Linked DNA regions of Homo sapiens: regions 2 and 3 are each linked to region 1. Evidence: fine-mapped expression QTL. A gene starts in region 1. Each other region holds a variant in brackets. All regions are shown on one strand. Distances are between the middles of the regions.

What was found. PIP is the estimated chance that this variant, and not a neighbour inherited with it, causes the effect. A credible set is the group of variants that fine-mapping cannot tell apart.
Region 2: its variant is the best candidate, but not a certain one, in a credible set for the expression of LINC02610 in spinal cord (GTEx, PIP 0.52).
Region 3: its variant is the best candidate, but not a certain one, in a credible set for the expression of LINC02610 in whole blood (Lepik 2017, PIP 0.84).

Annotation. Positions count from the first base shown.
Region 1 is chr2:238,226,007-238,236,075 of GRCh38, reverse strand. LINC02610 (long intergenic non-protein coding RNA 2610) reads left to right here and starts at 4,399. Exons shown (of 3, transcript NR_026926.1): 1 at 4,399-4,742; 2 at 8,278-8,392. It also overlaps the pseudogene TARDBPP3. RefSeq lists silencers at 1,263-1,352, 1,503-1,632 and an enhancer at 1,333-1,834.
Region 2 is chr2:238,306,442-238,316,510 of GRCh38, reverse strand. No RefSeq gene overlaps it. Among named protein-coding and RNA genes, the nearest start is that of TRAF3IP1, 9.0 kb to the left of the region's middle. RefSeq lists an enhancer at 960-1,459. The variant T/C (reference allele first, on the strand shown) is at 5,043.
Region 3 is chr2:238,528,240-238,538,308 of GRCh38, reverse strand. The region is part of intron 2 of LINC01107 (long intergenic non-protein coding RNA 1107); the gene reads left to right. It overlaps LOC124906130 (a long non-coding RNA gene), which reads left to right. Exons shown (of 2, transcript XR_007088215.1): 1 at 1-5,325; 2 at 6,333-8,528. Among named protein-coding and RNA genes, the nearest start is that of LINC01107, 22 kb to the left of the region's middle. The variant G/C (reference allele first, on the strand shown) is at 4,695.

The DNA of each region.
Region 1 (10,069 bases):
CCCAGGCGTTCTGCCTTCCATCATGAAGCAGTGTGGCGCCCGCTTCCGACATGGGCATGGGCCCCCATCCCTGCTCACCTGCTCAGGGACTCTGCTCTCCACTGCACCATTAGCTTCTCCTCCCTTCTGGATCATTCTCATTAACCTACAAACGGGCTGTAATATGAATACCTTTACTCGGAAGAACCTCCCTGGATGTGACATACTGTTAGCCTCTGTCTCAATGCTCTAAAGCAAAATTCCTTGAAAGCGTCATCTACACTTACTGCCTCCACTTCCACGCATCCCATTCCTCTTCATTCCTTTCCAATCAAGCTATTGTCCACCCTTCCACTGGAACTGCACAGTCAAAATCTCTAGTAACGAGCATGTTTCCCAACCCAGTGGGCATGTCCGCATGTCAGCTTCACTTCTCGTGGGTTATGACTCATCCATCTGGAGGCTCCTTCTCCAGTCTCAAGGGCACCACACCAGCCTTCTTTCTACCTCATCGGCCATCCTCAGTCCCCTGTACTCAATGCTCCTCCCTGCCGACCTCCAACTGGACGTGTTCTTCCCAAGGCTCTGTCCTCAGCCTTCCCTGCCGCCCTCCAACTGGACGTGTTCTTCCCAAGGCTCTGTCCTCAGCCTTCCCTGCCGCCCCCACACCCAGTGACACCATCTGGCCCGTTTTGCCAATCCCATGCCCTTGATTCAAAGCCCCTCTCCAGGCGGCTGGCTCCTCTGTATCCTCCTGTCCACTCAGTGACTGCACTTAGATGTCAGATGGGCTCACACCACCACCAAAACAACAGATCCTCAGGCATTACCACTTCTTGGTACCCCATGGATTGAGCAAAAAAATCTAGATGTCACCCTCAAGTTCACCCTCTTCCTGCCATCCCACGTCCTATCAGTCAAGCCCATGAGCACTACTTCTTCTTCTTTTTTATTTTTATTTATTAATTTATTATTATTATTATTATTTTGAGACGGAGTCTCACTCTGTCGCCCAGGCTGGAGTGCAGTGGGGGAGATCTAGGCTCACTGCAACCTCCGCCTCCTGGGTTCAAGCAATTCTCCTGCCTCAGCCTCCCAAGTAGCTGGGACTACAGGCGCCAGCCACCACGCTCGGCTAATTTTTTCTATTTTTAGTAGAGACGGGGTTTCACCGTGTTAGCCAGGATGGTCTCGATCGCCTGACCTCGTGATCTGCCCGCCTAGGCCTCCCAAAGTGCTGGGATTACAGGCGTGAGCCACCAAGCCCGGCGGAGCTCTACTTCTAAGCCCTGCCTCCACGTGTCGTCTTCTTTGCCACCGACCGAGTCCAAGGCAGCCTCGTTTCTAACCTGGGCCTCCGCAGCAGGCCTCTGACTCCCCTCCCACTCCAGTCCTGACCGTGACCTTCAAGACTCTACCCGGTTCAGCACCGCCGCCCCCCGGGGCTCCTCCCTTCCAGCCCTCCCTACGCTCTGCTCAGGCCTCTGCAAGTGACCCGAGAGCCAGGACCCGGACGGTCTCGATCAGCCAGTCGCCCAGCCCTTGAGCCCTTCCGGGACTGCCCGGAGCCGGCGCTGGGGAATACCGAGTCCCTTGGAGCCGGGTTCGGGGGGCGCCGTGAGCTGGGAGGCGCTCGGAGGAGCCGAGGCCTTGACCACGCCCCCTCCAGCCCCGCCCCGCCAGAGGCGAGCCGCGGGGCCTCCTGGGAGATGTAGTTCCGACCCCTTTACTTAGATTTTTGGTTTTTTTTTTTTAAATCAGTTTTATTTAAGAATTTCCAACAATGACAACTCTTATAAAAAGCATCCAAGCACAGGACACAGAACTGCAGCAAACAGCATTCTTATGGGTAGCTAACAGACATTAGAACTTCTACCCTTCTTTGAGACACCAGAGTTCACTGCTGAACTCTGCTTCCAAGTCCTCCTGCAAAGCACACCACAAGCTCAGTCCATGTTCTCAGCCCATCAGCTTCAGTTCACATTGCCACACTTACATATCAGTAACAGAAGAGAACACACACCATACAGCATTCACAGCAGTTGACAAAGGGGTAGGGGGAGTACAAGTATCATTTCACTTAACACATTCAAATAAAGTGGGTTATCTAAGAACAAAAACTCAAAGTCTTCCAACAGATGTGGATGTCCTTTGAATGCAAAAAACATTCGTACATTATTTGCTATCATTGCTGTCTGCACACTGTCACCAAAGCCGCAGGATTGAGAAACACATCTCGCCAAGTTAAAAAATATCCGTTATGCACCACCAAGTCTCTGCACGTGCTCTCTCCTTTTCTCACTCATACTAGCCTTTCATGCCTCAGCACCACCGTCAATCCCACACAAGGTTTCAAAAGTTCAAACAGCCTTCTAGTTCCATATCACAGCCTTGCGTTCACAGCGTTGATACGACTCTATGAAATAAAGAGTAGCAGATAAAAATGGGACACCCACCGTCAAAGACGCGGCCTGTGATGCGTGATGACGAATTCTTGAATGAGAAGGCATGTAGACAGAAGTGTTCCTATGGCAGAATATTTACAGCACTACTTTCAACCAAGTGCTTCTTCCATAAACATTTGAAATGAGATGAACTGCAGAGATTAAATGAAGGCTTCATATTGTACTTTTGTGTTTGAGGGGAGACAAGTGTTAAAAAACAAAACAAAAGAACCAAACTGTGACACCATGATCTTCTAAAAGGAGATTTTCTTAAGGAAAAAAATCCATATGGTGGGGTTCAAATTAAAACAAGGAATAAAGAATGTAGTTCTAATTCATGGCTTCCATTTTGAACATGCAAAGAACTCACTTGACAAGTCCAGGGATAAAATATTACAGGAGAAACCTTCTGATATCAATTGTAGTGTGTTGGTTTACCAATCAGGCAAACAGCAGTTCACTTTCAACCACTCAATATTTCAACCTTTCATGTAACAAAACTTATAAAATTCCTTTAGCTGTTCCTTTTTCTAAAGAAAAATGTCAAAAATACTACTGAATATACTCCACACTGAAGAAACCAATTTTGAAAATTCTTAGTACATATGTATTTTACAATATACTTACCATGAGTTTAGAAAAATTTGAATTCCAACCATTCTATACCAACCAACCACAACCCCACTGTCTACGTTCCCAGCCAGAAGACTTAGAATCCATGCTTGAGCCAAAGCCGCCATTAAAACCACTGCCCGACCCTGCATTGGATGCTGATCCCCAACCAATTGTTGCACCAAAATTAGAACCACTACAAGAGTTATTTCCAGAACCGAAGGCCTGGTTTGGCTCCCTCTGCATGTTGCCTTGGCTTTGGTTATCATCCGATGGGCCTGGCTGCTTCGCTGGCTGGCTAACACACCCATCGTACACCAACTGCTCTGCAGCACTGCCTGGGGGGCAGCCATCATGGCTGGATTAATGCTGAACGCACCAAAGTTTATCCCACCACCCATATTACTACCTTGATTGTTTCCCAAACCAGCTCCACCCCCTCTACTCTTACCAAATCCACCCTGATTCCCAAAGCCACCTGGATTACCACCAAATCTTCCACTTCTTGCTGTCTATTGCTATTGCGCTTGGGTTCGGCATTGGATATGTGAACGCTGATTCCTTTCATCGAGTCCTCTCCACAAAGAGACCGCGCAATCTGATCATCTGCAAATGGAACAAAGGCAAAGGCCCTGAACGGCTTGGGGACGAAGACATCCATCACATCCCCATACTGAGAGAAGAACTCCCACAGCTCATCCTCAGTCATGTCCTCCGTACGGCGCCCCACAAACACTTTTCTGCTTCTCAAAGGCTCATCTTGGCTTTGCCGCACCATAAGAACGTCTCCAAAGGTACTACAGTACTCTTTCAGGTCCTGTTCAGTTGTTTTCCATGGGAGACCCAACACTATTAAATCGGACTGGTCTTTTCACTTTCACTGCTGATGAAGCTTCTGTCTCACCCATTTTTCTTTTGTTATCTTTCGGATAGTTGACAACATACACCGGATTTCTCCAGCCAGCATCGGGGGCATGCAGAATTCCTTCTACCAGCCGGACACCTCTCATACATTGAGACACCGGATTCCTGCAGCGAAGCCCACACGCCCCTGGAAACTGGGCTGTAACCGTGGACAGCAGCACCGTCCCATCGTCTTCCGATGGTATTTCAATGGGCTCATCGTTCTCATCTTCGGTTACCCGAATATATTCAGACATCTTTTACTTTTCCACTAGGCCGCTGCTGGGAAGCCCGACAGGGACACCGAGGCAGCGACGGACCCAAGCGCCAGTGTTTTTTTGTTTGTTTGTTTTTTGTTTTTTTAAAGAGGCCACCACAAGTTGAGGCGGGACTACAACTCCCAGAGGCCGCCGCGGCCCGGAGGCCACGCCCCTTGGCGGCGAGCTCTGAGCCCTTTGCCGCATTTGACACTCGACATCCTCGTGCTTCTTAAAGCACTTGCCCAACGGTGAGCAACGGCCTCCAACGGTGCCCGAGGGACTCGCGCTGCCCGTTAAGCAGCTTTGCGGTGGCGGAGGCTGGGCTGCCGTCTCTCCGACATCCCGGGACGGAGGAAGAGATGAAGGCTCTGCAGCCCCCGCCGCCCGATTTACGCTTGAGAAAGCGAAGGCGAGAGAGGTCGTCCAGCCCCTGGGGGCCCAGCCCTAGAGAGCGGGGCGCGGGCTGCGGGGCCCGGCGGCCTGGACGGCGGAGCGTTGAAAGCTCCCCCAGGGATAGGAAGTGCAGCCGAAATCAACGATTGAGGTCAGTGAAGGAGCGGACGCTTGAGGCCTTGGAGGGGAAGCAGGTTTCTCCAGGAGGGAACCCGGGCCTCCGCTTTGCTCAGCGCTCCCCTCGCGAATGTGTTGAGCACCTGTTATGTGCTGGGGGTACAGAGGTGAGACTCACAAGGCCCCTGCATTGTCTTTAAGATCAGCAAGACCCCGCAGAGAACCCAAATCCAACGCGCACTGCCCAGAGGCAGACACTGGCATTCCTTGATAGACGGTAGCCAGGGAAGCCCAGGTCTTACTAGATTATTATCAGTACTTGGATTTGAATGTATCTGAGAGGAGGAGGGTTAAGGTTTAAGCTGTGGCTCAGAAGCCCCTCAGCTCTTCGTGGAATCTCCCAGGCTTTTCACTCTTGCATCCTCATGGAAAAATACTGCCCTCCCTGGGAAACCATGCTTTCTGTGCACACCTGCTCTGTTCCCATGTCGCTGTACTACCTATTGACCTGTCAATGGATGATGACACTTGGGGTACTATCCTCTCTCCTCCAGATCTTGCCCCACCTTAACCTTGAAAGAATATTAAATGCGCCCTTAGACGTCAGGAACCATCCCTCAAACCTTGCCATTCCTCTCTGTTGAACCTGCTCCAAATCTTAAGTGCCAACCTCCATCTTATCCACTTTATCCTGGGGAACTTGTCCTCACACCCCGTTGAGGTTTCTTACTTATTGTCCTACTGTTTTCTTCACACTCCAGTTTCTTAAAAACAGTCTTCATTCTCATTTTCTTCATTTCCTCATCACCTGTTTGTCCCTAACAAAATTTCAGTATGGCTACATTTCCTGCCATTCTACTATAGAAAACTTCTGCCAGAGTCTCCAATGAACTCCTGATTGCCGAGTAGACTCTTCAGTTTTCTCACCCGAACTTTGCGGCATTTGATACTCAACATCCTCATGCTTCTTAAAACATTGTTCTTGCCAGAGCACGGTGGCTCACACCTGTAATCCCGGCACTTTGGGAGGCTGAGTTAGGCAGATCGCTTGAGCCCAGGAGTTCAAGACCAGCCTGGGCAACATAGCAAGACTCCATCTCTACCAAAAATGCAAAAAATTAGCCAGACATGGTGGCCCGCACCTGTAGTCCCAGCCACTCGAGAGGCTGAGGTGGGAGTATCACTGGAGCCCGGGAAGTCAAGGCTGCGGTGAATTGAGATCACGCCAGTGTGCTCTGGCCTGGACAATGGGAGTGAGACCTTATCTCAAAAAATTGTTCTCTGTCTAGTCTTCTTGCTCTTCTTGTTCCACCATTCCTTCTCAGGTTCTGGCAGTGGCTCTTCACAACTGGATATTAAATGTTGTCTTTTTTTTTTTTTTTTTTGAGACAGGTTCTCACTCTGTCTCAGGCTGGAGGCTGGAGTGCAGTGGTACGATCATGGCTCACTGCAACCTCGACCTCCCAGACTCAAGTGATCCTCCCACCTCAGCCTCCTAAGTAGCTGGGACTATAGGCGCACATCACCATGCCTGGCTGATTTTTGTATTTTTTTTGTAGAGAGAGATGTTTGTAGTGTTGCCCAGGCTGGTCCAGCAATCCACCTGCCTCACTCCCAAAGTGCTGGGGTTATAAGCATGAGCCACCGTGCCCGGCGAATATTGTCTTCTTAAATATTGTGCCCCACATTTCTTTGCTAGGCCCTCTTCTCTAGCTTCTAGGCTGTAATCTGTATGATCTCCATGGCTTCACCTGCTGTGCTACCAGCTGCAAAATCTATTTCCAGCCCAGCCCTCTCTGGAGCTCTCATAGAGTTTATCCAAATGCCCCTGGCTGTCGCCTCTCAGGAATCCCACAGGTTCTGCAACAAGTTCAAATGTGAACTCAGCTTTCCAACAAAACCTGCTCCTCCCTTCATGTTCTGGATCCTTCAGAGCAACAAGGGCATCAATCCTTCAGGCTGGAAACCAGACGGTCCATGGAGACACCTCCCTGGAGCCCTGCCTGGGCAACCTTGACCTCCCAGGTTCCAGGGGACACTGGAGCCCTGCAGGTAGCGTCCAGGAACTGGCAATCCTGCCACTTCAACAGGTTGAACGAACAAGAGGATGAGTCTTAGACGTCCCTTTCCCCCTGTCCGGCTCCTGCATTCGTAGTTCAGGTTCTTGGCTGTCACCTGGAGAATGGCAGTGGTCATTAAGAAAACCCCCACCTTGAAGGTTACGCCCTGAGCTTCAGTCTTTTCAAAAGCCCAACACTGCAGATTCTCAAAGAATAGTAGGCCTGGTCCTCACGTGGGCCAACTCAGAACTTACTGACTGCCTCCACACCCCCTCCACCACCTTCTGTCTCCATGCCCTTGCCAGATATTTGGTTTGCTGCATGGCCAAAGCCGCTGCTCTGCCCTCTGCATGCCTCCAGGTTTGGCTCAGATAGACTGCCTGCCTGAAGCCTTTCCTGGTCACTCCTCGTTTTATGCAGTTTCCAAGGCTTCTTTTATTTCCCTGACGGCATAGTCCAGATAATGTTTGCTTGTTCATTCCACAGTTGTTAACTGGAGGCCTGCTCTTTGTCAGGCATTCTTCTAGTTGCTGGAGACAGACAGCATTTCTTCTCAAGTTTATGCTGTTATGGGCAGTTAGGCTGTTGGGTTGTTGTTGTCTTTTTTTTTTTTTTTTTTTTTTTTTTTGAGACAGAGTTTGTGCTTTGTTGTCCAGGCTGGAGTGCAGTGGCACGATCTCCGCTCACTGCAACTTCCTCCTCCTGGGTTCAAGTAATTCTTCTGCCTCAGCCTCCCAAGTAGCTGGGATTATAGGCGCCCGCCGCCACACCCAGCTAATTTTTGTATTTTTAGTAGAGACGAAGTTTCACCATGTTGGCCAGGCTGGCCTCGAACTCCTGACCTCAGGTGATCCACCTGCCTCAGCCTCCCAAAGTGCTAGGATTACAGGCGTGAGCCACCACGCCCAGCCTGTTGTCTCTTGATCCTTGAATACGCAGTCTCTGTCTTGTCTGTATTCCTGCCTCATATTTTCTCTCTCCTGCCTCTTTATCTCTTAAACCGTTGTCTCTTCATCCACATCATGGGAATGGCAGTAGTACCTACTTGTTTTGAGGGTTGAATGAAATAGCATGGAAAGCCGTTTTCTCAGTGCCTACTGTTGGTTGGAATTCCCTTTCTCTTTGTTTCCACCTCGTTCTCTTTGCGTCTTCATCCTCCCCTGCCTTCATATCCTTCTGTTCCCCATCTCACCAGCTCTCTCTTCCTCTCTCTGGCTCCCTTCCTCTCTCCTCTCTTCCCTGTCTCTCTGCCTCTCTCTGTTTCTTTCATTCTCTCGTCCCTGTTTCTGTCTCTTCCTCCAACCCACTTTTGCTGGGCTTTCCCTGCCTCTGCCCCGCCTTGCCTTCTTTGTCTTTCTCTAGCCTCCCTCTGCCTCTACCTCCCTCTCAGACGAGAGCAGGTGACTCCCCTGATGCTTCCTGCCCCTTCCCTGGTAGTGGGTGTGGAGGGGGTGACTGCCCAGCTTCTGCAGCGCCAGCGACTTCCTCCACCTTGTTCCCGCCCTGCAGGGTCTGAGCACCTCCCTCATGCAGACAGAGCCCCGGCTCCCATGTTCACCATGCTGAGAAAGACCTGCGGGGGACAGCAGGAGGACAGCCGGGGAATGGGCCCGCACTTGCCCAGGTGAGTGCTGTGGGGAGTCAGGCCAGCCCTGTGGAGAAGGCCGCTGGAAAGGGGGAACTGATGCTGCCATTCCTTATAAAAAGGGCCACCCAGTCCATGTAGCTGAGGACCAGCACCAGGCAGGATCTTTAATGGGACTCTGGGCTTTGTTAAAGGGCCACAGGCTTGTTTAGGGAGGTGGGGACAGAGTCAGGAGGGAGAAGTACCACTTCTCCTGGGAGCGGCACATGGCATGGAACAAAATAGCCCTGGGGCACGCCCTGAGCCCAGCCCTAGTTTTCTAGCTAAGGATCAGGTGAGAACCCCCAGACCTCTAGCTCCTCTCAGGAGGCTGGCTGCTGGCTGGTTCCTCTTCCAGAAGTCCGTGCAGATCCTGTCCTCTGGCTTTGCCTTGCCTAAGACCCAGTCTGCACCAAGGCTGAGTCCCTGGACTTCTGGAGAGAGAGGGCTGTCCCTTTGTGCCCTACAAGTACAGTGTGTGGGCGCCTCCCCTGGGCCCTGCACAGGTTCTGTGGCACCGGCAGCATGCGGGAAGGTGGGAGGAGGCACACCCTGCCTTTGGGAAGCTGAGAACAGATCCCTGGGGGCAACCTGTGCCCCTGTAACCAGGAGGAGTCTCAATAGGAAATTTTAGCTGCTCCTGGTGGAGCAGGGCCTCTGTCTTAAGGAGAGTGGAATTTCCGAGGGACAGACATTTCCTGACCATTTGTGTATAGGAATCAAGGCAATGAGAGAACAATCAACAGGGCATGGGAGATGAGAAAAAGGTGAGATGACCTCTGACAGGCAGGCTCCTGAAGGAAGGCTTCCTGGAGGAGGTGGCATGTGAGCCCTGCAGGACAGGTAGAGGTTGGAGGATGAGACAGAGGAGGGGGCCTTGCCTTTCAGACCCCAGGCGCCACCATGCTCCCCATCTTGACTTGGGAATTTCCCAGTGACAGGGCAGGAGTGAAGTGCAGGGCCTTCCCACTGCTGGGAATTTGGCTGTGTTGGCGCGTGGGGTCTGCCCTGGGGCGCGTGCTGCCTTCGCTAGCTTCACCCCATTTCCCTCTCTCCCCTTCTTACCATCAGAGGCAGAGCTCGTGCATGCCCGACCTCGCTCCTCACGGCTCCCTGGGCAGCAGCGCCCTGGCAGTTGGAACTGGAAGGCTTATCAGAGTCCACGCAGCCCCACCGCCCTCCCCACTCTCGGGGGTGGGCATCGGGGGACAGGGCCAGGGCAGGGAGGAAGACAGGGCCCGGCTCACCCCACAGCTCAGCCCATGAGGGTGCGCAGAGCAGGGCTGGCAGGAGTGGGCCACTCCACACCCAGCCCTGTTGAAGAGAAAGAACAGAAATAGGGAACAGAAAGTTGTCGATTGCTGTGTAACAAATTGCCCGCAGTTTAGTGCCTTCAAACAAACGTAGCTGCACAGTGTCTGTGGGTCAGACATCCAGGCCCGGGGAAGGAGCCTCTGCCTCAAGGTCCCTCCCGAGGCCTCAGTCAGGGCCCGGCCGGACTGTGAGTAGATTGCACGCTCCGTGCGGGGAGGCTCGGCTTCTCTGCTGGCCCCGCGCCTGTGGGCAGGATTCAGTTCCTCATGGGCTATTAGAGTGAGGGCCTCGATCTTTTCTGCTGTTTGGCTGGAGGCCTCGCTCAGTTCTCTGCTGCACGGACCTTTCCTTGGCACAGCTCCC
Region 2 (10,069 bases), 80 kb before region 1:
TCCAGGACCAAGTGAGCTTTGGTCACCTAGACAGAGGCCAGATGAAAGGGGCCAGGGCTCATCTCCTTCTAACTGTTGGCCTTGCTTCCTCCTACACTGCACCTTGCAGGTGGGCTGGCTGTGTGAGACTCGGCCGAGAGGCTGGGAGACACCTAAGAGAGAGACAGCCCATGATAGAGGGAATTTAACGACACTCACCATATAGAACCATCCCATGCTCCGTGGGGAAAACAAGCCCCCAAAGAGTTGCACCCTCAGAGGGATTCCATCTTGGCTGCTCTCCGTTTATAACCCTACTCCTTGGCCAGAGCACCACCAGCCTCTGACTCCTGCCTCATGAAATCTTCCTGACTCTGGAAACTCCACTCCCAACCCACAGAAGCTTTTGTGATCTTCCATCCATCCCCTTTCTCTCAGCACTACACTTCCCAGAGTATATGGTCTCCAGTCCAGACTCACACCATCCCAAGGACCTCTGCAGGACAGTCCACTGTGACATTTGGCACTGCAGTCCCTTGGAACAGTCCAGGATGACGGTGGACACTGAATCACTGAATCACGCTCCTTCTAGGGCTCCCAAATTCCCATTCTTCTCCTGATTGTCCACACGTGTCCTTATCACACACGTACCTCCTTCCCAAGAACAAGCATTAATTAAACAGTTCATCAAACCCCATAAAGAAAAATAAATAGTTTCCATACTGCCCTGTCATTTGCCAACATCCCCCACCCAGTGAAACTAACACTTCCCATGAACATGGAGAATGCTGTTAGCTCCCTTCATTCCTGCATTTCACCTTTCCTGCCCACCACCCAACCTCTCCTCAGGCCTCCCTGAAAGTTTTTATAGGGGAGGAGCATGGTGAGACTGTACTTCTTCGTGGCTGGGCCCTCATTTCGCAGAGGCTGGCCTAAAGCTCTGAAACGATGAAGCCCTTAGACAAGACTGCAGCAGCCTCCTGCTCCCAGGTGTTAGAGAGAGGGCGGTCATCTTCACAGGATGACAGGGCCCTCCAGGGGTGCTGCACCAGATGCAGGTGATGCTGTGGTGGCTGAAAGCGGGAGAGTCTTCCCAAACTGGAGGAAGCCCGGCTGGGCCGCCTTCCCTGATCTGCCCACCATGGCCAAGCTGGGAGCCAAGAGGCTCCTGCAAGGGCCCATCCGTCTCTGAGCTCTGAGCTGGCTGGGGTCAGCCTGAGCAGCGGTGGAAGGAGCACAGAGACCACAAGCGCCCTGCCTTCGGAACAATGTTCCCAAGAGCAGAGCTCCCCGGCCCCCGCCCCAGAAAGTCCCATCTGGGCAGTATCCTCCTCTGGGCCTGATGGCCAGAAACCCGCTTGTCTGACAGTGGCCAGCCTGAGTGGTGGGAGAGGTAGGTGTGGCCTGGAGAACACTTGGGCCCCTGAGGTTCGGACCCTGAACCAGTGCTGCTCAAAGGGGAAGCTGGTTCCTATCTCTCCCCCAGCCTATGGAGAGCAGGAGCCGTGTGGGCCAAGGCCTTGTGGAGGCCTTGAGGGCACAGGGCCTGGCTGTTTGGAACTGTGAGCCATCAGAGACCCTCCTGCCCACCTGGGCATCAGGAGCTCTGAGAAGATCTGGGACAAGGGAGCAGAGTCACCCAGTCCCACCGAGATCCTTACGGAGGCGGGGAGGTGGCCAGGGAGTGGACATGCGTCCCTGGACAGTGCAGTGCTTGAGGAGCATGGACTGTCTTCCATGCCACCCACTGTGTCTCATGAGGCCCCAACACTGCCTCAAGGTGAGTCCTCACCCTCTGCACAGAGCGGGAGGGCGGATGGGCATCCGGGGTGCTTGGAAAGCAGGCCTAAGAAGAGGCAGCTAAGGATTCCTGACTCCAAGAAAGAGACCTGCAACCAGGGCCTCCCAGGGCAGGAGGGTGCAGAGGGCAGCCTGAAGCCTCCAGTTCTAACGGCTCCAAGCCAGGTACAAGGTAGGAGGGACGATGTACCCTAAATTACCCCTAAGCTTCTCAGAGTCCTAAAAGCATCAGAGGGAAAGGCAGAGAACATAAAAAAGAGTCATTCATAAAAAAAAAAAAAAAGATAATTGATTAAACAACTATAGAAAATCACAGCAAAGAAAGTGTTGGAAACATAAAAGGCTGGCAGGAGATGTTTTGAAATGAACAGTTTCTGAATGAATGATAACCATGGCCCTGACTCGCTCCAGGAGAGAGAAGCCACAAAGCTTCCAATGTGTCTTCCAGGCCCTGCCTCCCCTCACCGGGAGGCAGACATTCCCAGAGACAAAGGCCTGGGGAGGCTGACTTGGCCCCACCCTGAACTCCATTTCTACCAAGAGCCCAAGATGTGGGTCAGGCTTTGGGAAGGGCTGGGGAGCAGATACCAGGTCAGAGAAGTGCAGAGCTGCAGATGGGCTCACCAGCCCTGGATCCACAAGGAAGTGGGGTGGGGGGTCACTATGGAGCAAATGCATGTCCACTGGGCAGAGACAGGGGAACTAGGCCCAAGAGGCCCAGCAGAAACAGAGTTCCATCACAAGCAGGAAGTGTTTGCTGTGACTGTCGCATCTGCTTCCCCAGCTTGGGGTACAAAAGAAGGTCCCCCACCTTTCTGAAATCCAGCTCAGATATTCTCACCCCCCGACCCCCGTCACTGAATCTTTATGTCTGCCTTGTGCAAGCTGGACGGCCCTCTGGGTCCCACAAAGGGTATGGGGGTGCAATACATAGCGAGCAGACCATAATACTTGGAGCTCTCCCCCATGGGCAGTCCGAGGGAAAGATTCACTACCCTCCCTCTCACAGGCCCTCAGGCCCTTCCAGGAGGGTCCCATGACTTTGAAGGGGCAGGGGCCTGGGTCCCATCATCCACCAAAGGCCTCTGAGCCACCCATGCCAATTTCCCAACAATCTTAAGCTCTGCTGGTAAGTAGCCACTCTTGGGTGAGGGGTGTAAGATTCTGCCTCCCCAGGCAGCCCAAGACACCCTTCCTTTGCCCCAGTCAATGCAAAGATGACACCAGGAGGGTGGAGCTGGGGAATCCTGCACGCCACAGGCCCCAACCACATCTGAGAAGAGAGACCACCATGAGTAAGAAGTTTTCAGGTGTCTCAAGGGAGCCCCTACTTATACTCCTGGCAGATACTCTCCACTCTGATTAAGTTACACAGAGCACGTTTTATTATTTTTGTAATTTAGTTTTATATTTTTGCCATGTCATTTATTTTTTCTTCCCCTTCCCTGCAGCTTTACAAAGGTATAATTGGCAAATAAAAATTGTATATATTTACAGTGTACAAAATGATGTTTTGATTTATGTATATATTGGGAAATGATTAAAATAAGCAAATTCATATATCCATTTCCTCTCATCTTTTTTTGCAGTGAGACCGTGTAAGATCTCTCTCAGGAATTTTCAAGTATATAATTAATACATTATTACTAACTACAGTTACCATGCTATACATTAATCTCCAGGATTTACTCAGCCTGTCCAACTGAAATGTTGTACCCTTTAACCAACATACCCGCATTTCATACACACAAACACTCCCCAGTCCCTGACAACCACCATTCTACTCTCTGCTTCTATGAGTTCAACTTTGGATTCCACATATGAGTTGAGATCATGCAATATTTGTCTTTTTGTTTCTGGCTTCTTTCTTTCTTTCTTTCTTTCTTTTTTTTTTTTTTTTGACATGGAGTCTCGCTCTGTCGCCCAGGCTGGAGTACAGTGGTGTGATCTCAGTTCACTGCAACTTCTGCCTCCTGGGTTTAAGTGATTCTCCTGCCTCAGCCTCCCAAGTAGCTTGGATTACAGGTGCCCGCCACCACGCCTGGCTAATCTTTGTATTTTTAGTAGAGACGGGGTTTCACCATGTTGGCCAGGCTGGTCTTGAACTCCTGACCTCAAGTGATCTGCCTGCCTCAGCCTCCCAAAGTGCTGGGATTACAGGCGTGAGCCACTGCACCTGGCCAGCTTATTTCATTTAACATAATGTCCTCTATGTTCATCCATCCAAGAAAAGGACAGAATTTCCCTCTTTAAGGCTGACTCGTATTCCATGGTGTGTAAATCCCACATTTTCTGTATTCCATTTATTTGCTAATGGACACTTAGGTTCATACCATGTCTTGGCCATTGTGTATAATGCTGGGATGACCATGGGAGTACAATTACCTCTTTGACATACTGATTTCATATCCTTCAGGCATCTACCCAGAAGTAGGACTGCTGGATCATAAGGTAGTTCTATTTTTTGGCCAGGCACAGTGGCTCATGCCTATAATCCCAGCACTTTGGGAGGCCAAGGCAGGCGGATCACTTGAGATCAGGAGTTCGAGACCAGCCTGGCCAATGGAGTGAAACCCCGTCTCTACTAAAAATACAAAAATTAGCCAGCCGTGGTGGCATGCGCCTGTAGTCCCAGCTACTCGGGAGGCTGAGGCACGAGAATCACTCGAACTCAGGAGGTGGAGGTTGCAGTGATCTGAGATCATGCCACTGCATTCTAGCCTGGGCAACAGAGTGAGACTCAGTCTCAAAAGTAAATAAATACATAAATAAAATAAGGTAGTTCTATTGGTAGTTCTTTGAGGAACTTTTATATTGTTTTCAATAATGGCTGCGCTAATTCCCATCCCCACCAACAGTGTATGGGGTTCCCTTTCTCCATATCCTCACTGACATTGTTATCCTTTGTCTCTTTGATCATAACTTTCTCCCACATGTGAGATGATAATGACTTGTGGTTTTAATTTGCCTTTTCCTGATGATTGGTAATATTGAGCATTTTTTCATATGCCTGTTGGCCATTTATCTGTGTGCCTTCTTTTGAGAAATGCCTATTTGAGTCCTTCACCCATTTTTGAATTGGGTTATTTGTTCTCCTCGCCATGGACTTGTTTGAGTTCTTTATATATTTTGGATATTAACCCTTTATCAGATGTATAATTTGCAAATATTTTCTCCCATTCTGCTCATTGTCTCTTCACTCTGCTGATTGTATCCTTTGCTGTACAGAAGCGTTTTAGTTTGATATTATCCCATTTGCCTAT[T/C]TCTGCTTCCACAGCCTGTACTTTTGGGGTCCTATTCAAAGAGTCATTGCCCAGACCACTGTCAAGAAGGTTTTTCCCAATGTTTTCTTCTATGGTTTTATAGTTTGGGGTCTGAAATTTAAGTCTTTAATCCATTTTGAGCTGATTTTTGTATATGGTGCAAGATGAGGGTCTGGTTTCATTCTTTTGCATATGGATCTAGTTCTCCCAACACCGTTTATTGAAGAAATCATCATTTCCCCAATGTGTGTTCTTGGCATTTTTTTTTTTTGAGGCAGAGTGTCACTTGCCCTGCGTCCAAGACTGGAGTGCAATGACACAACCATAGTTCACTGTAACCCCAAGTTCCTGGGCTCAAGCAATCCTCCTACCTCAGCCTCTGAAGTAGCTGGGATTACAGGCGTGTGCCACCATGCTCAGCTAATTTTTTGTCTGTTTGTTTTTGAGATGAAGTCTCGCTCTGTTGCACAGGCTGGAGTGCAGTAGTGCGATCTCGGCTCACTGCAACCTCCACTTCCTGGGTTCAAGCGATTCTCCTGCCTCAGCGTCCCCGAGTAGCTGGGACTACAGGCATGTGCCACCACGCTCGGCTAATTTTTTTGTGTTTTTCGTAGAGATGGGGTTTCGCCACATTGGTCAAGCTGGTCTCAAACTCCTGACCTCAAATGATCCACCTGCCTCAGCCTCCCAAAATGCTGGGATTACAAGCGTGAGCCACTGCGCCCGGCCATCAGCTAATTTTTATTTTTTTTTGTAGAGATAGGATGTTGCTATATTGTCTAAGCTGCTCTTGAACTCCTGGGGTCAAGCTATCCTCCCACCTCAGCCTCCTAAAATACCAAAATTACAGGTGTGAGCCACTACCTCTGGCCTCTTGGCACTTTTGTTGAAGGTAAATTGACTGAGCCCTCCAACCTGAAATATCCCACCTGCCACTCCCTGAAAGCCTGCAGTTGACTCCCACTGACCCCAGGAGTCCTCCTCCAAGCTCCGGCGGTGCTGTCCAGCTCCCCCTGGCCCATGCTTAAACAAGGGCATGACTTTCCCCAGCTAGTGCACAAGGTCCAGGAAGGCTGGGACAGGGTCCATATGTCTCCTCAGGGCACCCCATGAATACTGGCTGCATGAACGTGTGGGTGCCTGAAGGAGGAAGGAGGAAGTCTTTAAAAAGGAGTGGCGCAGCCGGGCGCCAGAAACAAAACCTGGCCAGGCGCAGTGGCTTACGCCTGTAATCCCAGCACTCTTGGGGGACGAGGCGGGCAGATCACGCGGTCAGGAGATCGAGACCATCCTGGCTAACACGGTGAAACCGCATCTCTACTAAAAATACAAAAAATTAGACGGGTGTGGTGGCGGGCGCTTGTAGTCCCAGCTACGCAGGAGGCTGAGGCAGGAGAAGGGCATGAACCCGGGAGGCGGAGCTTGCAGTGAGCTGAGATCATGCCACTGCACTCCAGCCTGGGTGACAGAGCGAGACTCCGTCTCAAAAAAAAAAAGGCGTGGCCCTCTCAGCTATGGCTGCCTTGGCCCTGTGGTGGGTGCTGTGCCACTCAGGGCTGAGGCCCACACTGCCCCAGCTGCCAGAAGCAGTGATCCCTGTGGGCTCACAGCCAGGTTCCCTTCTGGGGAGACTTAGCCAAAGGGGCCTACTGTGCCTCCTGCTCCCTATGGGCACCCGCATTCAAGGGCTGATGGAGTTGGGGGTGCAAACCCAGTTTCCCAGAGATCTCTACCCAAGAGAGTTGCTCTCAGAAGTGGTCAGAGGAAATGGACCCTAAATTGAGATTTCGGAGCTGAATCACCACTGACCGGCTCAACTGAAGCCCCCAGGGTGGGCGTGAGAGACCACTGTCTCAAAAACAAACAAACAAACAAACAAACAAACTAGAATCCCCAGATTCTCCTGAATCATCTGGACCTACAGAGGAGGCCCACTGCTCCTGTTAAAGGCTAGCACCCCCTTTCTTGAAGTGTTTTATATAGAGAGAATGTGTGTGTTATAGTTGGGGGGCGGGGGGAGAGAGAGAGAGAGATGTCTGCCTTGCAAGACAATGCATGCGTTTTTCAGGATCTATGCCAATATCCCCCTCCTGACACCAGACCAATCATGAGGGTCAAACAACAACATAACCTAGCTAGGACATGCTGGCCTGCTAAGGGAGGGAGGGACTCTATTCCGAAGGAACTGCAGGATCTGCCTAGCATGGACCAGCAAGATCCAGGAGAGCACATCCAGGACTGCATCCCAAGAGTGCTGGACCCAGCAGGGGACAGAATATAAAGACGGATAAGACAAGAGTTGATGAATGTGGGAGGACTTTCCGTGATAGAAGCTTGTGACCCTGGCTGGGTCCCAGGGAGACAGTGCTAATGGGCTGTTAGAATGGCTCTTGGACACCTGCAAAGAGCTATGGCCTTCACTAAGTGAAGGAAAACTTCCAGCCCCACCATGGAGGATGGTAGGGAAATGAGCCTACTAGAGCACATACGTGATGTTGGGCCAGCAAACCTACCAGCCCACTGTGTCCTGTGAGAGGGCTCGGAGGTCACTTCATTTACCAAAGTGACAATATTTGGCATGTAATATTGGTTTTTATAGCCAAGAGTGGCAAGGTCAGAGTGGTAGCCAGGAAGACCTGACATGCAGAGAGCTATGCGGCCGGATAATACAACAAAATGTTCCTAGGGACCAGGGGAATGAGCAGTCAGCAAGGGTGTGGCCGAGCTTTCGAAACTAAAATAAATCAAACATGGATGAGCAGGAGGCTGAGAGTGGCTGCCCCAGTCCCCCGCTACAATCCCTTGCCTGGTTTTGGACCTAGAACTCATTGAAAGGCCAGGTTCCCAACATCACTGCCGGTGCAGGGAGCCAAAATCTCCCCCACAGTCCTTCCCCAAAGAAACCTAAGGCCACTCATTCAAGTAACTATACACAGGGAGGGGGAATACAGAACCATTTCAAGGACTATTGCACACAGAATCCTGGGGACATGGAGCATCATCTTGACTCCTGTTAAAGGGAGGGCATACGGGGTCAGGTGATAGAGCCCTAGCCCCACTTTGGATTTTGGTAGGTCCACAGGGTCCATGGAGCCACCTGGTGGTCATTTCCCGAGCCCTCAAATGCAATGATTGAAGTGGACACACTTGGCATATGGGGTAACCCCATGTTGGCCAGATACTTGGGATTGTGGAATAAGAGCTATAGACCTGGGAAGCTGAGTGGGAATCCCTGACACTGCCCCTCCCCCAGCCAAGACAGTAAATAAAAACCAATATTGCATGCTGAAGAGAGTTACAGCAATTATAAGGGACGAATAGATTCCACTGTTAAAACCTGAAGGATGCAGGTATACTTTCTCCCCATTATAGAGTCATTTAATTAGCCAAACCCCTGCAAAAACCACATGGATCCTGGGGATTGACAGTGGAATACTGCAAACCCAAACAAATAGGAGCCCCAATTGTGGTATCTTTGCTATAGCAGGTCAACACAATCTCAAGTCCATGGTAGGAAGCCAATACATTCATTTCCATCCCTACTTAAGAGGAGAACCAGAAGCCGCTTACATTCATTTAGGATGGATAAGAGTACACATTGGCTGGGCACGGTGGCTCACACCAATAATCCCAGCACTTTGGATCTGAGGTGGGCAGATCATCAGATCACCTGAGGTCATGAGTTTGAGACCAGCCTGGCCAACATGGTGAAACCCCATCTCTACTAAAAATACACAAAATTAGCCGGGTGCGGTGGGCGCTTGTAATCCCAGCTATTCAGGAGGCCGAGGCAGGAGAATCGCTTGAACCTGGGAGGTGGAGGTTGCAGTGAGCCGAGATTGCACCACTGCACTCCAGCCTGGGCAACAGATTGAGACTCCGTCTTAAGAAAACAAAAAAGAAGAAGAAGAAGAAGAATACACACTGATTGTCTCACCCCAGGGCCATATTAACTCTTTTCCCTCTTTCCTAATATAGTCTGGATGGACCAGACACTCTGCACAATGCTGCACTGGTTCAGTATACTGATATCCTATTAATTAAACTGGATGACCAGATTGACGAGGAGAAACCTCAGAGGCCTTATTAAGGTGCGTGTGCTGCAGAGGGTGGGAGAGAAACCCTGTGAAGTTCCAGGCGTCTGCTGCATCGGTGAAGTTTTTAGGGGCCCAGTGGTTGGAGCTTAACAGGCATCTCCACAGTGAAGGAAGGACTACATTGTGTACTTCCCACCACTAAGAAGGACCACGAGGACTGGTCGCCTCTGTGGGTTCTGGAGGCAGCACGTGCCACACTTGGGAATACTGCGTGGTCACATTTACCAGGTGGTGTGAAAGGCTGCCAGCATGGGGAAGAACGCTGCAGTGGGCACAGGCTATGGTGCTAGCAATCCAGCAAATTAGGCCAAATGATCTGGAAGATGCTATGGTTCTAGAGATACCTATGGTGGAAAAGATGCCTTGTTGCTTTAAATCTCTGAGTGTGTGATAACTTCATGGCAAACCCCCAGTGGGAGAATCACAACCTGGACCCTGGGGGTTCTGGAGTAAGGCCACGCTATCTGCAGCAAAGGAAGACAGATGCTGGTATGCCTCTGCACCCTAGCAGAGCGGAAGACACCAAGCGGTGATCACACCACTAGAGCTGCCTGCCTTGAGCCGGGCTCTGCCAGGGCCTCCAGGGCATAGGTCAGGCATGCTCGACAGAAATCTATGATAAGATGAAAGGGCACATCCAGCACTGGGCTTATGCAGGGCCAGAGCCACAGATAAACTGCACAAGACCCTCCTATCATCTGCCTCTGTTGCACCACTGGAGGTCCCTCACCTTCATCACTGCTGTGTTGGGTGGCGGTGTCACTTATGACCACCTAGTGGAGGAAGAAATAGGCCGAGCTTGGTTCATGCATGGGTTGGCTCAGTGTGGGATGCAAAAAATGCCTAAAAATAGATAGCTGCTGCACTGCAGCCTCACTCCGGGGCCTCCCTGAAAGGCAGTGCTGACAGACTGCCTCTCCCAATCTCCCC
Region 3 (10,069 bases), 300 kb before region 1:
CCAGGAAGTGGCTTGCATGTTGCATCATCCCTGAGGTAGGAGCACTACACCAGCAGGTGTCTTGGATCTTTCCAGAGGTAGGAGCACTTCACCAGGAGGTATCTTGAATCAACCCTAAGGTAAGAGCACTGCACCAAAGGGGTCTTGGATCATCCCTGGAGTGGGGGGAACACTACTCCAGGAGGTGTCTTGGGTCATCCTTGAGGTGTGAGCACTGCACCAAAAGGTGTCTTGTATTATGCCTGATTGTATTATGCCTGAGTGTGAGCATTGCACTTGGGGGTGTCTTGGATCATTCCTGAAGTAGGATCACTGTCTCAGGGAGTGTCTTGAATCATTCCTGAGGTGTAAGGATTGTTACAGGAGATGTCTTGAATCATCAGAGGAAAGACCACTACACCAAGTGGTGTCTTGGATCATCCCTGAGGTGTGAACTTTGCACCCGGAAGTGTCTTATCATGCCTGAGGTGTGACCCATGTACCAGGAGGTCTCTTGTATCATCCCTGAGATGGGATCACACACCATGAGGTGTCTTGGATCAAATCTGAGGTGCAGACGCTGCACAAGGAGGTCTCTTGAATCATCCCTGAGGTGGCAGCACTGCACCAGAAGGTGTATTGGATCATCCCTCAGGTGTGAACACTGCACCAGGAAGTGTCTAAAATCATGCCTGAGGTGTCAGCACTGCACCAGGAGGTGTTTTTGATCATCCCTAAGGTGCAGGCACTGCACCAGGAGGTCTCTTGGATTATGCCTGAGGTTTGAGCACTGCATCAGGAAGTGTCTTTTATCATCCCTGATGTGTAAGCATTGCACCAGGAGGTGTCTTGCGTCATTCCTGAGGTGTGTACACTGCACCAGGAGTTGTTCTGCATTATTCCTGAGGTCGGAGCACTGCATCACAAGTGTCTTGGATCGTGCCTGATGGTGCCTGACCAGCAAGTGTCTTAACTCATCCCTGAGGAGGGAGTACTGTAACAGGTGTCTTGGATCATCCCTTGGAGTGCAGCACTACACCACCAGGTGCTTTGAATCATCTCTGAGGTGTGAGCAGTGCACCAGGAAGTGTCTTGTATTATGACTGAGTGTGAATACTTCACCAGGTAGTTTTTTGGATAATTCCTAGGTGTGACCGCTGCACCAGGAGGTATCTCGGATCATGCCAGAGTTGTGAGCACTGCATCAGGAGATGTTTTGGATCATCCCTGAGGTGTGACCACTGGACCAGGAGGTGTCTTGGATCATGCCTGAGTGTGAGCACTGTACCAGGTGGGTTTTTTGTATCACCCCTAGGTGTGAGTACTGCATCAGGAAGTACCTTTGATCATGTATGAGTTGTGATCACTGCACCAGGACATGTCTTAAATCATATCTGAGTTGTGATCACTGCACCAAGAGGTGTTTTGGAGCATCCCTGAGGTGTAAGCACTGCACCAAGAGGTGTCTTGGATCATGCCTGAGTTGTGACCACTCCACCAGGATATGTTTTGGAACATACCTGAGGTGTGAGCACTGCACCAGGAGGTGTCTTAGATTATGCCTGAGTGTGAGCACCTCACCAGGATGTACCTTGGATCATGCCTGAGTTTTGTGGGCACTGCACCAGGATGTGTTTTGGATAATCCCTGAGGTGTGAGCACTGCACCAGGAAGTGTTTTGTATTATGCCTGAGTGTGAACACTGCACCAGGTGGTTTTTTGGATGATTCCTAGGTGTGACCACTGCACCATCATCATGCCAGAGTTGTGAGCACTGCATCAGGAGATGTTTTGGATCATCTCTGAGGTGGGATCACTGTACCAGGGGTGTCTTGAATCATCCCTGAGGGGTGAACACTGTGACAGGAGGTGTCTTGAATCATCCCTGAGGTAAGAGCACTGCACCAGGAGGTCTTTGGATCATCATACCTGAGGTGTGAACATTTCACCCAGAAGTGTCATATCATGTCTGAGGTGTGACCCATGCACTAGGAGGTGTTTTGTATCATGCCTGAGTTGTGACCACTGTACCAGAGGGTGTTTTGGAACATCCCTGAGGTGTGAGCACTGCACCAGGTGGTGTCTTGGATCATCTCTGTAGTGTGAGAATTACACAAAGAGGTGTTTTTAATCATCCCTGGGGTGAGATCACTACACCAGGAATTGTGTTGGATCATGCCTGAGTGTGAGCACTGCACCAGGAGGTATTTTGAATCATGCCTGAGTTGTGAGCACTGCATCATGAGGTGTTTTGGATCATCCCTGAGGTGCAAGCACTGCACCAGGGGGTGTCTTGGATCATCCCTGATGTGTGAGCACTGCACCAGGAGATGTCTTGGATCATCCCTGAGGTGTAAGCACTGCACAAAGGACTGTCTTGTATTATTCCTGAGTGCAAACGCTGCACCAGGTGTCTTTTTGGCTCATTCCTAGGTGTGACCACTGCACCAGGAGGTATCTCAAGTCATGCCAGAGATGTGAGCACTGCATTAGAAGATGTTTTGGATCATCCCTAAGGTGTGAGCACTGGACCAGGAGGTCTCTTGGATCATCCCTGAGTTGAGAGCACTGTTCCAAGAGGTGTCTTGGATCATGCCTGAGTGTGAGCACTGCACCACGTGGTTTTTTTGGATCATCCCTAGGTGTGAGCACTGCACCAGGAGGTATCTTGGATCATGTCTGAGTTGTGATCACTGCACCAGGAGGTGTCTTAAATCATATCTGAGTTGTGAGCACTGCACCAAGAGGTGTTTTGGAGCATCCCTGAGGTGTGAGCACTGCATGAGGTGGTGTCTTGGATCATCCCTGTAGTGTGAAAACTGCACAAGGAGGTATTTTCCATCATCCCTAAGGTGGGAGCACTACACCAAGAAGTGTGTTGGATAATGCTTGAGATGTGAGCACTGCACCAGGAGGTGTCTTAGATCATGCCTGAGTGTGAGCACCTCACCAGGATGTACCTTGCATGATGCCTGAGTTGTGTGGGCACTGCATCAGGATGTGTTTTGGATCACCCTTGAGGTGTGAGCACTGTACCAGGAATTGTCTTGGATCATCCCTGAGTGTGAGCACTACACCAGGAGGTGTTTGGGGTCATCCATAAGGTCTCAGCACCGCACCAGGTTTCTTGTATTATGCCTGAGTGTGAGCACTGCACCAGGAGATATTTTGAATCATGTCTGAGTTGTGAGCACTGCATCAGGAGGTATTTTGGATCATCCCTGAGGTGTGAGCATTGCACCAGGAGGTGTCTTGGATCATCCCTGAGGTGTGAACATTGCACCCAGAAGTGTCTTATGTCATGCCTGCAGTGTGAGCACTGCACCAGGATATCTAGGATCATCCCTGAATTGTGAGCACTAAACCAGGAGGTGTCTTGATTCATCCCTGAGGTGTGAGCACCTCACCAGGAGGTATCTTGGATCATCCCTGAGATGTGAACACCTCACCAGGAAGTGTCTTGGATCATGTCTGAGTTGTGAGCACTGCACCAGGACGTGTCTTAAATCATCTCTGAGGTTTGAGCACTACACCAGGAGGTGTCTTAAATCATGCTGAAAAGTGACCACTGCACCAGGAGGCATCTTGGATCATGTCTCAGTTGCAACAGGAGGTGTCTTGGATCATCCCTGTGGTATAAGCACTGCACCAGAAGGTGTCTTGGATCAACCCTGGGATGGAGGCAGTGCACCAGAAGGTGTCTTGGATCATCCCTGATGTGGGAGCACTGCATCAGGAGATCTCTTGGATCATCGCTGAGGTGTGAGCACTGCACCAGGAGGTATCTGGAATGATTTTTGAGGAGAGTGTAGCGCACCAGGAGGTATCTTGGATCTACCCTGAGGTGTGAGCACTGCAACAGGAAGTGTCTTGGATCATCCCTGAGGTGTGAGCACTGCAACAGGATGTGTCCTCAATCATCCATGAAGGGGGATCACTGCACCAGGAGGTGTCTTGTATCATTGCTGAGGTGGAAGCACTGCACAAGGAAGTGTCTTAGATCAACCTGACTTGTGAGCACTGCACCAGAAGGTGTCTTGGATCATTGCTAAGATGCAAGCAATGCACCAGCAGATGTCTCAGATCGTCCTTTAGGTGGGAGCGCTACACGAGGGGTGTCTTGGATCATCCCTGAGGAGGGAGCACTACACCAGGAGGTGTCTTGGATCATTTCTGAGGTGCAGGCACTGCATCATGAGGTGTCTTGGATCGTCGCTGAAGTGTAAGCACTGCACCAGGAGGTGTTGTGAATCATCGCTGAGGTGTGAGCACTGCACCAGTAGGTGTCTTGGATCATCCTTGGGGTGTGAACATTGCATCAGGAGATGTCTCAGATCATCCCTGAGGTGCAGGCACTGTACCAGGAGGTATCTTGAATCATTTCTGAGGTGCAGGTGCTGCACCAGGTGTCTTGAATCAGCCCTGAGGTGTGAGCACTACACCAGGAGGTGTCTTGATTCATCCCTGAGGTGTGAGCACTGCACCAGGTGTCTTGATTCATCTCTGAGGTGTGAGCACTGCACCAGGAGCTGTCTTGAATAACTTCTGAGGTGTGACCATTGTACCAGGAGGTGTCCTGTATCATCCCTGTGGAGGGAGCACTGCACCAGAAGGTGTATTGGATCATCCCTGAAGTGTGAACACTACATCAAAAGGCATCACGAATCATCCCTAAGGCTTGAGCACTGCACCAGGAGGTGTCTTTGATCATGCCT[G/C]AGATGTATGCACTGCACTAGGAGGTGTTTTGGATCATCCCTAGGTGGGAGCACTACCCCAAGAGGAGTCTTGGATCATCTTTGAGGTGGGAGTACCACACCACGAGGTGTCTTGGATCATCCCTGAGGTGGAAGCACTGCACCAGGAGTTGTCTTGGATCATTCCTGAGGTGTGAGTACTGCACCAGGAGGTATCTTGTATCATCCCCGAGGTCAGAGCACTACACCAGGAGATGTTTGGATCAAACCTGACATGTAGGCACCGCACCAGAAGGTCTCTTGGATGATGCCTGAATTGTCAGCACTGCACCAGGAAGTGTATTTTATCATCCTTGAGGTCAGAACACTGCACCAGCAAGTGTCTTGGATTCTGCCTAAGGTGTGAGCACTGCACAAGCAGTTGTCTTGGCTCATCCCTAAGAAGGGAGTACTGTGCCAGGGGGTGTCTTGGATTATGCCTGAGTTGTGAGCACTGTATCAGGAGGTGTCTTGGATCAGCCCTGAATTGTGAGCACTGCACAAGGAGGTGTCTTGGATCATCCCTGAGGTGGGAGCACTGCACCAGGAGGTGTCTTCAATCATCCCTGAGGTGTGAGCACTGCACCAGGAGATGTCTTGGATCATCCCTGAGGTAGGATCACTACACCAGGAGGTTTCTTGGATCATTTCTGAAGTGTGAGCACTGCACCACAAGGTGTCTTGAATCATCCCTGAGGTAGGACCACTACACTAGGAGATGTCTTGGGTCATCCCTGAGGTGTGAGCACTGTACCAGGAGGTGTCTTGGATCATCCCTGAGGTGCAGTGATATGGTTTGGTCATGTCCCCACCCAAATCTCATCTTGAATTGTAGCTCCCATAATCCCCACATGTCATAGAAGGGACCCTGTGGGAGGTAACTGAATCATGGAGGGAGTTACCTCCATGCTGTTTTCATGACAGTGAGTGAGTTTTCAGATCTGATGGTTTTATAAGGAGCTTTTCCCCCATTTACTTGGCACTTCTCCTTCCTGCCATCCTGTAAAGAAGGATGTGTTTACTTCCTTCCACTTTGATTGTAAGTTGTTTGAGGCCTCCTCAGCCCCACAGAACTATGAGTCATTTAAACCTTCTTTCTTTATAAATTACCCAGTCTTGGGCAGTTCTTTATAGCAGTGTGAGATCAGACTAATAAACACCCCCATGATTTAATTACCTCCCACCAGGTCCCTCCCATGACACATGGGGATTATGAGAACTACAATTCAAGATGAGATTTGGGTGGGACACAGCCAAAACATGTTATTCCATTCATGGTCCCTTTAAAATATGTCCTCACATTTCAAAACACAATTATGTACTTCCAACAGTCCCCCAAAGTCTTAATTCATTCCATCATTATCCCCAAAGTCCAAATCTAAAGTCTCATCTGAGACAAGGCAAATTCCTTCGCCTATGAGCCTGTAAAATCAAAAGTGAGTTAATTACTTCCAAGATACAATGGAGATACAGGCATTGGACAAATACACCCATTCCAAATGAGAGAAATTGGCCAAAACAAAGAGGCTCCAGGCCCCACCCAAGTCCAAAATCCAACAGGGCAGTAACCAAACCTTAAAGTTCCAGAATAATCTCCTTCAACTCCATGTCTCACATCAGGTCACGCTGATGCAAGAGGTGGGCTCCCATGGCCTTGGACTGCTTCACCCCTGTGGCTTTGCTTTCACAAGATGGCATTGAGTGTCTGAGGCATTTCCAGGTGCACAGTGCAAGCTGTCAGCGGATCTACCATTCTGGGGTCTGAAGGACGGTGGCCCTCCTCTCACAGTTCAACCGGGCAGCACCCCCATGGGGACTCCCTGTGGGGGCTCCAATCCCACATCTCCCTTCTTCAATGCCCTAGCAGAGGTTCTCCATGAGGGCTTTGCCCCTACAGCAGACTTCTGCCTGTACATCCAGGTATTTCCATACATCCTCTGAAATCTAAGCTGAGGTTCCCAAACCTCAATTCTTGACTCCTGTACACCCACAGGTCCAAGACCACGTGTAAGCCACCAAGGCTTGGGGCTTGCACCCTCTGAAGCAACAGCCTGAGCTCTATGTTGGCCCCTTGAGCCACAGCTGGAACTCACTATCACCAAATCCCTATACTACACAAAGCAGCAAGGCCCTAGGCCTAGCCCGTGAAACCCTTTTTTCCTCCTAGGCCTCTGGGCCTGTGATGGGAGGGACTGCTGTGAAGAACTCTGACATGCCCTGGAGACAGTTTCCCCATTGTCTTGGTGATTAACATTTGGCTTTTCGTTACTGATGCAAATTTATCTAGCTGGCTTGAATTTCTTCTCCAAAAATGGGTTTTTCTTTTCTATCGCATCATCAGGCTGCAAATTTTCCTAAGTTTTATGTTCTGGTTCCCTTTTAAACATAAGTTTTAATTCCAAACCATATATTTGTGAGTACATAAAACTGAATGCTTTTAACAGCACCCAAGTCACCTCTTGAATGCTTTGCTGCTCAGAAATTTCTTCTGCCAGATACCCTAAATCATCTCTCTCAAGTTCAAAATTCCACAGATCTTTAGGGCAAGGGCAAAATACTGCCAGTCTCTTTGCTAAAATGTAGCAAGAGTCACCTTTATTCCAGTTCCCAAAAAGTTCTTCATCTCCATCTGAGACCACCTCAGCCAGGACTTCATTGTCCACATCACTATCAGCATTTTGGTCAAAACCATTAAACAAGTCTCTAGGAAGTTCCAACTTTCCTGGAAGACATCTTCCTGTCTTCTTCTGAGCCCTCCAAACTGTTCCAACCTCTGCCTGTTACCCAGTTCCAAAGTCACTTCCACGTTTTTTAGTATCTTTATAGCAGCGCCCCACTACCCAGTATCAATTTACTGTTTTATTCCATTCTCATGCTGCTATGAAGAACTGCCTGAGACTGGGTAATTTATAAAGGAAAGAGGTTTAAATTACTCACAGTTCTGCAGGGCTGGGGACGCCTCAGGAAACTTACAATCATGGCAGAAAGCAAAGGGGAAGCGGGCACGTCTTCATGTGTCTGGAGAAGGAGGAAGAGAGCAAAGAGGGAGGTGCCACACACTTTCAAACAACCAGGTCTCCTGAGAACTCATTCACCATCACAAGAATGCAAGGGGGAAATCTGCCCCCATGATCCAATCACCTCCAACCAGCCCACTTCCCCAACACTGGGAATTACAATTCGACATGAGATTTGGTTGGGGACACAGAGCCAAACTATATCAGTGCTTAACCTCATTTGAGTTGTCACACGCAACCAGGAGGCTTGAATAACCCACTGCTTCCAGACTAGATGGCTTTCTGTGTGACCCCAAGAGAGACTCCCAGCCTCTGCTGATTCCTATGTAAAGTATGGGTTGGAACTGGATGGTATCGTAGGTTCCTTTAGCTCCGTATGATTCTCATGTAAAATTCCACCCAGCAGTCAGGCAAGAGGTGCACTGGGGAGAGGAGGTGGAACCCCCAGGTTGTTGATAAAATCCTGAAATCCCTTGGCTCTGTGCTTCAAACAGCCACCTTCCCAACATCTATGACTCTTTGAACTGCTCATAAAGAGCGCTGATTAATGTGACACTTCACATGCCCACCATGAAATTAGGAAGGCCCTTAGATCTCCTTCAAACCCGCGGTGCCGGTGCCTTCGCCCCATCAATCAGAGATGAAACTGTGATTGTGCTGCAAGGAGACGAGGCCATCCTGGAGTTCTGCCATGAAAGAATCGCTGGGACTCAAAGGAGGGGAAAACAAGGGAAGGAGAGAGGGGGAAAGGGAAAGAGAAGCTGCTTCCAGAAGGAATAAATTTGTGTGTGTACTTTGATCCTGCTATGATTTTTATTTGTTTTAGCCACATCCTTTTCACTGCACCACTCAGCTAAAGGTGCTTTAAATTAGATGGCGCTAGGAAACCCTCTTCCTCCCCCCTTCTTCCCCTGCCTGCCACGCAGGCCCACAGTCTTCAGTCAGTGTGAGATGTATAATCATGTCATGCTCAAATGTAACTGGAATAAATTGAGACAAATAAACTCAAAGGCACCACATGCATTTAGAATGCTCTTTGTCAGGGTTTCCTAATATGCTTGCAGGCAGCTAACTCAACGCAAACAAAAAGTGGCAGTGTTTACCCAGCTTTGCTTTGGAGCATGTTGAGAGCCTCTGACTCACAGATCGCTGCTGATTGAATCTGCACATACATTGGTGTTCACTGTCCCCCAGCTAACTTCCTTCCCTCTTCCACACTCCTCCCTTTCCCAGGTGTCCAGGCTGAACAGGGACTTGTTTGGGGTCCTCTGTTCCTCTCCTCTACCTGTCTTCAGTAGGATAGCACAAAGATCACAAAGGCCTTGAGAGCAGAGATGGGAAGTGAGAACCGTGTCTCACTGTGAGGACCCCAGGACCTTTGTTCAAACAAAGCAAAGCAGCACCTGGCATGGCCGGCCCGTTCTGCTCAGCGTTCAGGAGCGAGCTGCCTACCAGAAACCTCCTCTTTGGTGCTCTTGTTAAAAAAGATGCCTCAGGGCACCTTTAAGGGAAGATCTGAAATGAACCTCTTACCTTCTAAAACCTTCTTTCTTGGCCAATCTTGTTCCATGACCGGCCACATGGCTGTGGATTTACTGGCTCTCTGGACCCTCACCCTCCCATCAGGGTGCCATCTTATCCATGTCTCTGATTGAGGGACACACATGTCAGCTCTCTGCTCCTGCACTGCCAGGCACAGCCATGATGGTCTCAGAGCCATTGGTCCCCAGCACAGAGGGGAGCTTCAAATGGTACCATGATGATGAAGGTGGTAGGTGCCTAGTAGCTACGGACTTTGGATTATATCCATTTCCAATGATTAACAAGAAGCCCCTTTAATTTTAAGCATGTACTTTTTATTCAGAAATAAGGTCCCACTCTGGCACCCAGGTGGGAGTGCAGTGGTGCCGTCATGGCTCATTGCAGCCTCAACCTCCCAGGCTCAAGCGATCCTCCCACCCCAGCCTCGCAAGTAGCTGGGACTGCAGGTGCACCATCATGCCTGGCTAATTTTTTAAATTACTATTTTAATAGAGATGGGGTATTGCTATGTTTCCAAGGCTGGTCTCAAACTCCTAACCTCAAGTGATCCTCCCACCTCAGCCTCCCAAAGTGCTGGGATTACCGACGTGAACCACTGTTCTGGACCAAGTATGTACATTTATAAATAACACCCATTTTCCTGTGATTTCCTTAGCTTCACTCTATGAACTGCTAGCTTGTCATGCCTCCCTGTCATATTCTCTGACAGTTTCCAGCCTTATGCCCCATGGGTGTCTCTCTCTCTCTCTGTCTCTCTCTGCTTTCTTTAATTCCTCTTTGGCTGCCAAGAGTTCATTT